2 linked regions of the Homo sapiens genome follow. The protein of the gene in region 1 interacts with the protein of each later gene in a biochemical or structural test. Each region holds a gene or a part of one and is shown in the gene's direction. Other genes may lie near its edges. The genes, in order: POU2F1 and PKNOX1.

The links.
Region 2: the proteins of POU2F1 (region 1) and PKNOX1 form a complex in vitro, tested with the Homo sapiens proteins (one study listed by BioGRID).

Annotation. Positions count from the first base shown.
Region 1 is NC_000001.11:167,374,264-167,378,085, forward strand, and holds part of POU2F1 (POU domain, class 2, transcription factor 1), read left to right. Parts: coding exon 1-33; intron 34-1,765; coding exon 1,766-1,892; intron 1,893-3,822. UniProt on the Homo sapiens protein: Transcription factor that binds to the octamer motif (5'-ATTTGCAT-3') and activates the promoters of the genes for some small nuclear RNAs (snRNA) and of genes such as those for histone H2B and immunoglobulins.
Region 2 is NC_000021.9:42,981,060-42,984,881, forward strand, and holds part of PKNOX1 (homeobox protein PKNOX1), read left to right. Parts: intron 1-3,822. UniProt on the Homo sapiens protein: Activates transcription in the presence of PBX1A and HOXA1.

The DNA of each region.
Region 1 (3,822 bases):
ATCCCCCTGTCTCAGCCCATACAGATCGCACAGGTGAGTGAGGAACTCCAATAGCTGGGGCAGCAAGTGAGGAATAAAGTGGCAGGTTTTATTTAATGTTAGATTAACTTTTTGATTGTTAGTGTGGGGCCTTAACTGCCTGAGGAGCTCTAGATCAGTGAGGTAAGCGGTACCCTTCCTTACCACTGAATTAGAAATAATGTTTGTTTGCTTATTGTAGTTGATATTGTAAACATATAGCTGATTATTTGAATAACTGACTTTATATTAAGTGACAATTCTTGAATAATTAGCTGGCATATTTTTGAAGCAGGGGATTACTGTATTTATTTTAATTAGCTAATTACAGCAGACATGGATTTTTTTTCATGTGCTCTGCGGTGAATGTTGCCACCCATGTGTGAGACAGTGAGTCATCTCTGCTATGGAGTGATTAACATTATTGCATTAGAATGTTGTTTGGTTTCAATTTTCACATTTTAGGGCAAAGTATCTAGAGATAATAAAAATTTATTTAAGAAGCGCCAGGCGCGGTGGCTCACGCCTGTAATCCCAGCACTTTGGGAGGCCGAGGCGGGCGGATCACTAGGTCAGGAGTTCGAGACCATACTGGCTAACACGGTGAAACCCCATCTCTACTAAAAATACAAAAAATTAGCCAGGTGTGGTGGCAGGTGCCTGTAATCCCAGCTACGCGGGAGGTTGAGGCAGGAGAATAGCGTGAACCCAGGAGGTGGAGCTTGCAGTGAGCCGAGATCGCGCCACTAAAAAAAAAAAAAATTAAGAAGCATACACAATAGTACCAAGGAGGAAAATAAATAAAATCTTTAATCTCAAGAAGAGGAAAAAGGTATAAGTAGATATATCAGTAAAATATATGAAGAGTTATTATGAGTCTAATTGTTAGACAGCTGTCTTTATCCGTCTCAGAAAAGACTCAGAAATGGACTTAACTTGTAGCAAGAGTTTGACTAACCATTTAAAAAGAACTAATTAACTGTAAGAGTAGAGAATAAATATCAGACTAGTCTTTATACAATCTTTATCAAGATAATGTTTTGATTTTGGCCACTTTCTCATCACCAAATAAATGTTTTTAGTGCCTAAGCTGTGAGACCCTATATTAACATTAGTCTAAATAAGATAACGTTCATGAAAACACTTTGAAAATTATAAAACAGTAGGCCAATGTAAGGTGCTATTGTTGTTAGGGATTAAATTTTTATATGGATAGCTATTTTTGGTTTTAAAAAATTGAATACTTTAGAACATGTGGAAAAGGGCAAAAAAATTGAATACTGATTTTTCAGTTGAGTTAGATAAGCTGTTGTCAAATGTCATAAGTCATTATAGGCCCTTTATTGATGGAAATTCAGACATAACACGATCAATTTTTATTTAAGAGAAAGATCAATCAAATATTTAAAAACTGTTTTCTCACTTGATTTTTAAAACCCATATTGGTCTTTACATGATAAAAAACAGAAGTATATTTGTTCTGAGGGAATTTTAAAGAAACATTGAAAATTAGGCTTATCATAACAATATATGTCAGTCCACAAAAATAGTCAGTTGCAGAGGCTCCAGGTTGCTTCACGTGCTTTGTCAAGCACACACAGAGCATACCCTGTTTGGAATATGAAAGCATGCGAAGTATTTACTCTTCTTTATTTGGATGTGACAGAAGTCATCAGCTGGAAGCCTTATAATTAAGCGAACTTTTATTTCAGAATCTCCAATCCATGTTTTAATTCCAATTTTTCAGGATCTTCAACAACTGCAACAGCTTCAACAGCAGAATCTCAACCTGCAACAGTTTGTGTTGGTGCATCCAACCACCAATTTGCAGCCAGCGCAGTTTATCATCTCACAGACGCCCCAGGGCCAGCAGGGTGAGCTCCTCCTTAGAGCTTATTAGTGGTATACCAAGGCTGTTCGCTGAATGTTACACATGCATGAACTACTATCATTTTGGCCCTGAAACTATTAGACCAATGTTTTTATTAAATTTTATTTGATTATAAACTTTCGTTTAAAAAAAGTTTTGTTTTGTTTTTTGTCATAAATACCACATTATTGAAGGTTGCCCTGAACTGCCATTCATCTGCTTAATCACTAAGGAAGAACCAAGAGTTTGGCCAAAAGTCTAAGTGAAATTATTCAACATGCCAAACATAAATTGGATAAGTTGCTGCTAGTGTTTTGATTGTTTTTCATGGAAGTGTATTCAAAGAATATAGACTGAGTGTTGAAAGTATGTGCTTCTAACCATTGTTTTTTTAATTTAAGGAGGGAAGACTGCTATAATAGAAACTACAAATTTCGTGAGTTATAAAAAACATCTTTGAGTCATTTGAGTGGTAAATGTTATATAATTAATATATCAAACAACCACTCGTCTGTAAGGTCAGTTAATGTAATCAGGGTGAAGAATGTCAGAGTATCAAGGCTTCAACCCAAGGAACATTAGTGCATCACTAATGATTCTTTATTATTTCTGAGTGGGTTTTTTTGCCTTTTTTCTTCTTGATCATTCATTCCAAAATCTTTTGTCATGAAATAATTATTCTAGCATATATTCAAGATTCAGAGATAAGTAATTCAGTATTTACTTGCAGAGGGCTCACAATTTAGTGGCAGGGAAACAGACCTAAATTATGTTAGATTTGATATGCACACAATGCTATGGGAACCAAGCAAAGAGACCCCTGTAACTTTGTGCTCAGATAAGTCTTCACAGTGAATTTGGGAAAATACATTCATAGGCTTACAAAAGAGAGAATGTCAGTCTTGGAAAATGAACAGCATTTGCAAACCTTAGAAACATGGAAGAAAAATCAATAAGCTGTGTTTGAGAACTATAAGTAGTGCCTTACAACTGCAGAATAAGTTTGCATATGCAGGTAATAGTGAAATTTGAACCCAGAAAGATTAGCAGAGACCAGATCATTAAAGAACCTTAGATTAAGTTTCCAGGAGTTTGACCTTAAATCCTATAGCTTAGTGCTTCCTAAGATTTGATTTATTTAAGAGTCATTAATGGCCAGGCGTGGTGGCTGACGCCTGTAATCCCAGCACTTTGTGAGGCCGAGGCAGGCAGATCACGAGGTCAGGAGATCGAGACCATCCTAGCTAACACAGTGAAACCCCATCTCTACTAAAAATACAAAAAAAATAGCCAGGCGTGGTGGCAGGCGCCTGTAGTCCCAGCTACTCAGGAGGCTGAGGCAGGAGAATGGTGTGAACTGGGAAGGCAGAGCTTGCAGTGAGCCAAGATTGAACCACTGCACTCCAGCCTGGGTGACAGAGTGAGACTCCGTCTAAAAAATAAAAAAATTAAAAAATCACTTGAGGAATTAGAAAAGTTTCCTGAGCCCTAACCCCAACCTCCCAATTACTTTTTTTCTTATTTTTAAACTATTAGGTTCAGGGTTACACTCAGGTTTGTTATGTAGATAAACTACATGTCATAGGGATTTGATGTACAGATAATTTCATCACCCAGGTAATAGGCATAATACCTGATAGGTAGTTTTTTCGATTCTCATCCTCCTCCCACCCTCTACCCTCAAGTAGGCCCTGGTGGCTGTTGTTCCCTTCTTTGTGTACATATGTACTGAAAGTTTTATGGCTGTATAGTATTCCGTTGTGTATATGCACCACATTTTTTTTAATCCAGTCTAGTGTTGATGGATATTTAGGTTGATTCCATGTCTTTGCTATTGTGAATAGTGCTGCAATTAACATACGCATGGGTATGTGTCTTTATGGCAGAAAAATTTATATTCTTTTGGGTATATACCCAATAATGGGATTGCTGTA
Region 2 (3,822 bases), on another chromosome or scaffold:
GGTGAGGGTGAAGGAAGTGGCTGCAGGCCCTGGGAAGTACCATCTTGCATCCGTGTGCAGCACTGAGTGGATACCTCATGGTTCTGTCTTGTGTACACTGTTCAGGAGGACATGTAGAGTGGACATATCACATAGAAGAAGGTCAGTCTGGAAACTGTTAGGAGAAGCACTCAAGGGCTGAGAGGCATGGTCCTTGGTGGAAAGAGCCAGCAGGCCTGGTGCTGGCGGTGCCCTGCTCGTGACAGTGTGCAAAGTCTGGAGCCTGGCCTGTTCCCGCCCTTGGCAGATGGTAGCTCCTTGTTTTGGATTATTAGCCCCTGCCGGTTTAGTTACTGTTTCTGGAAGATTCACATAGAAGGCAGTGTGGTAATTCAGTCAACGTGTTGTCTGGCATGTGGTATAAAACTCCTGTTTAAAGCTCTGATTCTGAGGCCATGCCTCAGGGACTTGAGAAGGGGACAGAGCAGCTTATTTTATTTTATTATTTATTTTATTTAATTTTAATTTTATTTTATTTTGAGATAGGGTCTCACTTTTTCACCCAGGCTGGAGTGCAGTGGCACGATCTCGGCCCACTGCAGCCGGGAGCTTCTGGGCTCAAGTAATCTTCCCGCCACAGCCCCCAAAGTAGCTGGGATTACAGGCACGTGTCATCACACCCAGCTAATTGTACTGTTTGCCGTCTGCGATTGACGCTGGAATGATTGGCTGTTTTAGTCGGGTTCTCAGGGTGGCAGGGAGCAGGCTGACTTCAAGTTGGGTGGGTGGTGAGATAGGTGGTTCAGGATCATGCAGGGATAAAGAAAACAGGAGTCTATGGGATTCTTGGGACCACTGTATTGTTGCTGGGCCTCTGGGCAGATGGAACCATGGTTTGTGCTCTGGCAGGATCCAGTTCTGCACCAGGGCTCTTGGCCTTCCGCTTCAATTAGGTGGTTGCCCTCCACTGTCTGTTCCATCTGTACGCTCCCCTCACAGTGGGGGCTCACCCAGCCTTACCTGCCCTGTACTCTCCCTTTTCCAGCACCCACCTCAGAGAGAGTGCCTGTGCTCTTTCCCCTCACACCACCTACCAGGCGCTGACCTTCGGGCTGGGGGCTGGCCTTGGGTGTTGCAGGGCTACCTGGCCCAGGGAGTGGTGCTTGGGGAGGAATGAGCTTCTGACACCTGCACAAGGAAGGCCCCCTTTGAGCAGGGCCTGCCAGTGGGGTTGGGTCACTCAAAGGGGCTGTGGATTGGTAGGTACTATGATCACAGTTTCCAGAACATAATGCCTGAGTGAGCGCATGTGTTTTGTTACATGTTCTCTCAGACATTTTATGAAGGTTTGTACATTTTTTTGCATTAAAAATGTTAGGAATTTAACTTGACAAGAAAAAGGAGCATAAGGCCGGGTGCAGTGGTTCACGCCTGTAATCCCAGCACTTTGGGAGGCCAAGGTGGGTGGATCACCTGAGGTCGGGAATTCGAGTCCAGCCTGAACAACATGGAGAAACCCTGTCTCTACTAAAAATACAAAAAATTAGCCGGGTGTGGTGGTGCATGCCTGTAATCCCAGCTACTTGGGAGGCTGAGGCAGGAGAATCACTTGAACCCAGGAGGTGGAGGTTATGGTGAGCTGAGATCGCGCCATTGCACTCCAGCCTGGGCAACAAGAGCGAAACTCCATCTCAAAAAAAAAAAAAAAAGTTTAATAAACATTAAATTGCTAAACTTTACGTTCTTCTAAATTTAGTTACGTATTTGAGCATACTTTTTTTTCCCCCACGAAACAGGGGCTTGCTCTGTTGCCCAGGCTGGAGTGCAGTGGTGCAATCTTGGCTCCCTGCAACCTCTGCCTCCCGGGTTCAGGCAATTCTCCTGCCTCAGCCTACTGAGTAGCTGGGATTACAGGTGCCCACCACCACGCCTGGCTAATTTTTGTATTTTTAGTAGAGATGGAGTTTTACCATGTTGGCCAGGCTGGTCTCGAACTCCTGACCTCAGATGAGCTGCCCACTGTTGCCTTTCAAAGTTCCAGGATTACAGGCATGAACCACTGTGGCTGGCCTTTTTTTTCCAATTTTTTGTTATGGTAAAATACACGTAACAAAATTTACCATCTTAACCATTTTCAGTGTGCAGTTCAGTGGTGGTAAGTTCATTCATACTTTTGTACAGCCATCACCACCATCTGTCTCCAGAACCCTTCATCTTGTAAAACTGAAACTCTATACCCATTAAACACTGCCTCCCCATCTCCCCTCCCTGAAGCCCCTGGCAACCACCATTCTACTTCCTGTCTCTGAATTTCGCTACTATAGGGACTTCATACCAGTGGAATTAGGTAGTATTTGTCTTTTTGTGACCAGCTTAGCTCATTTACCATAATGTCCTTAAGGTTCATCTATGTTGTAGTGTGTGTCAGAATTTCCTTCCTTTTTAAGGCTGAATACTCCATTGTGTGGATATACTGAATTTTGTTTATCCATCCCTCAACAGACACTTGAGTTCCTTCTACCTTTTGACTATTTTGAATAATAAAACTGTGAACCTGAGTGTGTAAATACTTCTCCGAGATCCTACTTTCAATTTTTTTGGATATAGATCTAGAAGTGGGATTGCTGGATCATACTGGAATTCTGTTTTTAATTTTTTAGGGAACCTCCATCCGATTTTTCGCAGCAACTGTACTGTTTTATATTCCTTTTAATTTAATTTATTTTTTATTTTTCCAAGGACTCAATAAGGAGAGAGTATCAGTTTACATTCCTACCAACAGTACAGAGGTTCCAGTTTCTCCGTATCTTACCCAACACTTATTTTCTTATGTGTTGTTGCTTTTTTTAATAGCAGCCATCCTAATGGATTTGAGGTGGCATCTTACTGTCATTTTGATTTGTATTTCCCTAATAATTAGTGATGTGGAGCATCTTTTCACATGTTCATCGGCCATTTACATGTCTTTGGAGAAATATCTCTTCAAGTCCTTTGCCCCTTTTTGAATTGGGTTTCTTACATGCATACGTGTGTGCGTGTGTGTGCGTGTGTGTGTGTGTGTGTGTGTGTGTTTTAAAGAGACAGGGTCTCATGATGTTGTCCAGGCTGGTCTCCAACTCCTGGGCTCAAGTAATCCAGTAATACTCCTGCCTCAGCCTCCCAAGGAGCTGGGACTTAAAGACATGGGCCCCTGTGCCTGGCTATGTTCATACGTTTTTACATATTTTTTAAGCTATATTGTGTTATGCTTTTAGTTGGCATTTTAGTGATTTTTAAAACATTTATATAATCCACACATTTCTCGTTTTAAAAATTTAAGGTCTCATACACTTTTGTGAGTCCAGTTTTTTTCTTTTTCTTTTTTTTTGAGACAGAGTTTTGCTCTTGTTGCTCAGGCTGGAGTGCGATGGCATGATCTTGGCTCACCACAACCTCCACCTCCTGGGTTCAAGCAATTCTCCTGCCTCAGCCTCCCAAGTAGCTGGGATTACAGGCATGTGCCACCCCGCCTGGCTAATTTTGTATTTTCAGTAGAGACAGGGTCTCTCCATGTTGTTCAGGCTGGTCTCGAACTCCCGACCTTAGGTGATCTGTCTGCCTTGGCCTCCCAAAGTGCTGGGATTATAGGCGTGAGCCACCATGCCCGGCCAGTTCCAGTTTTTTGTATTATTTTACGGCCATGCTCTATGTTGTGGAGCCTTTTGAGTATTTAGGTTTTGATACTTTCTGTGTTTTGCCATCCGAAAGCTGGAGTCCCTCTGACCCACCAAGCTTAGTGCTGACAGGGAGAGTAGAGAGGGGTGGCTGCTGTGCAGGGAGGGAGTGCAGGTGCCAGTTCCACAG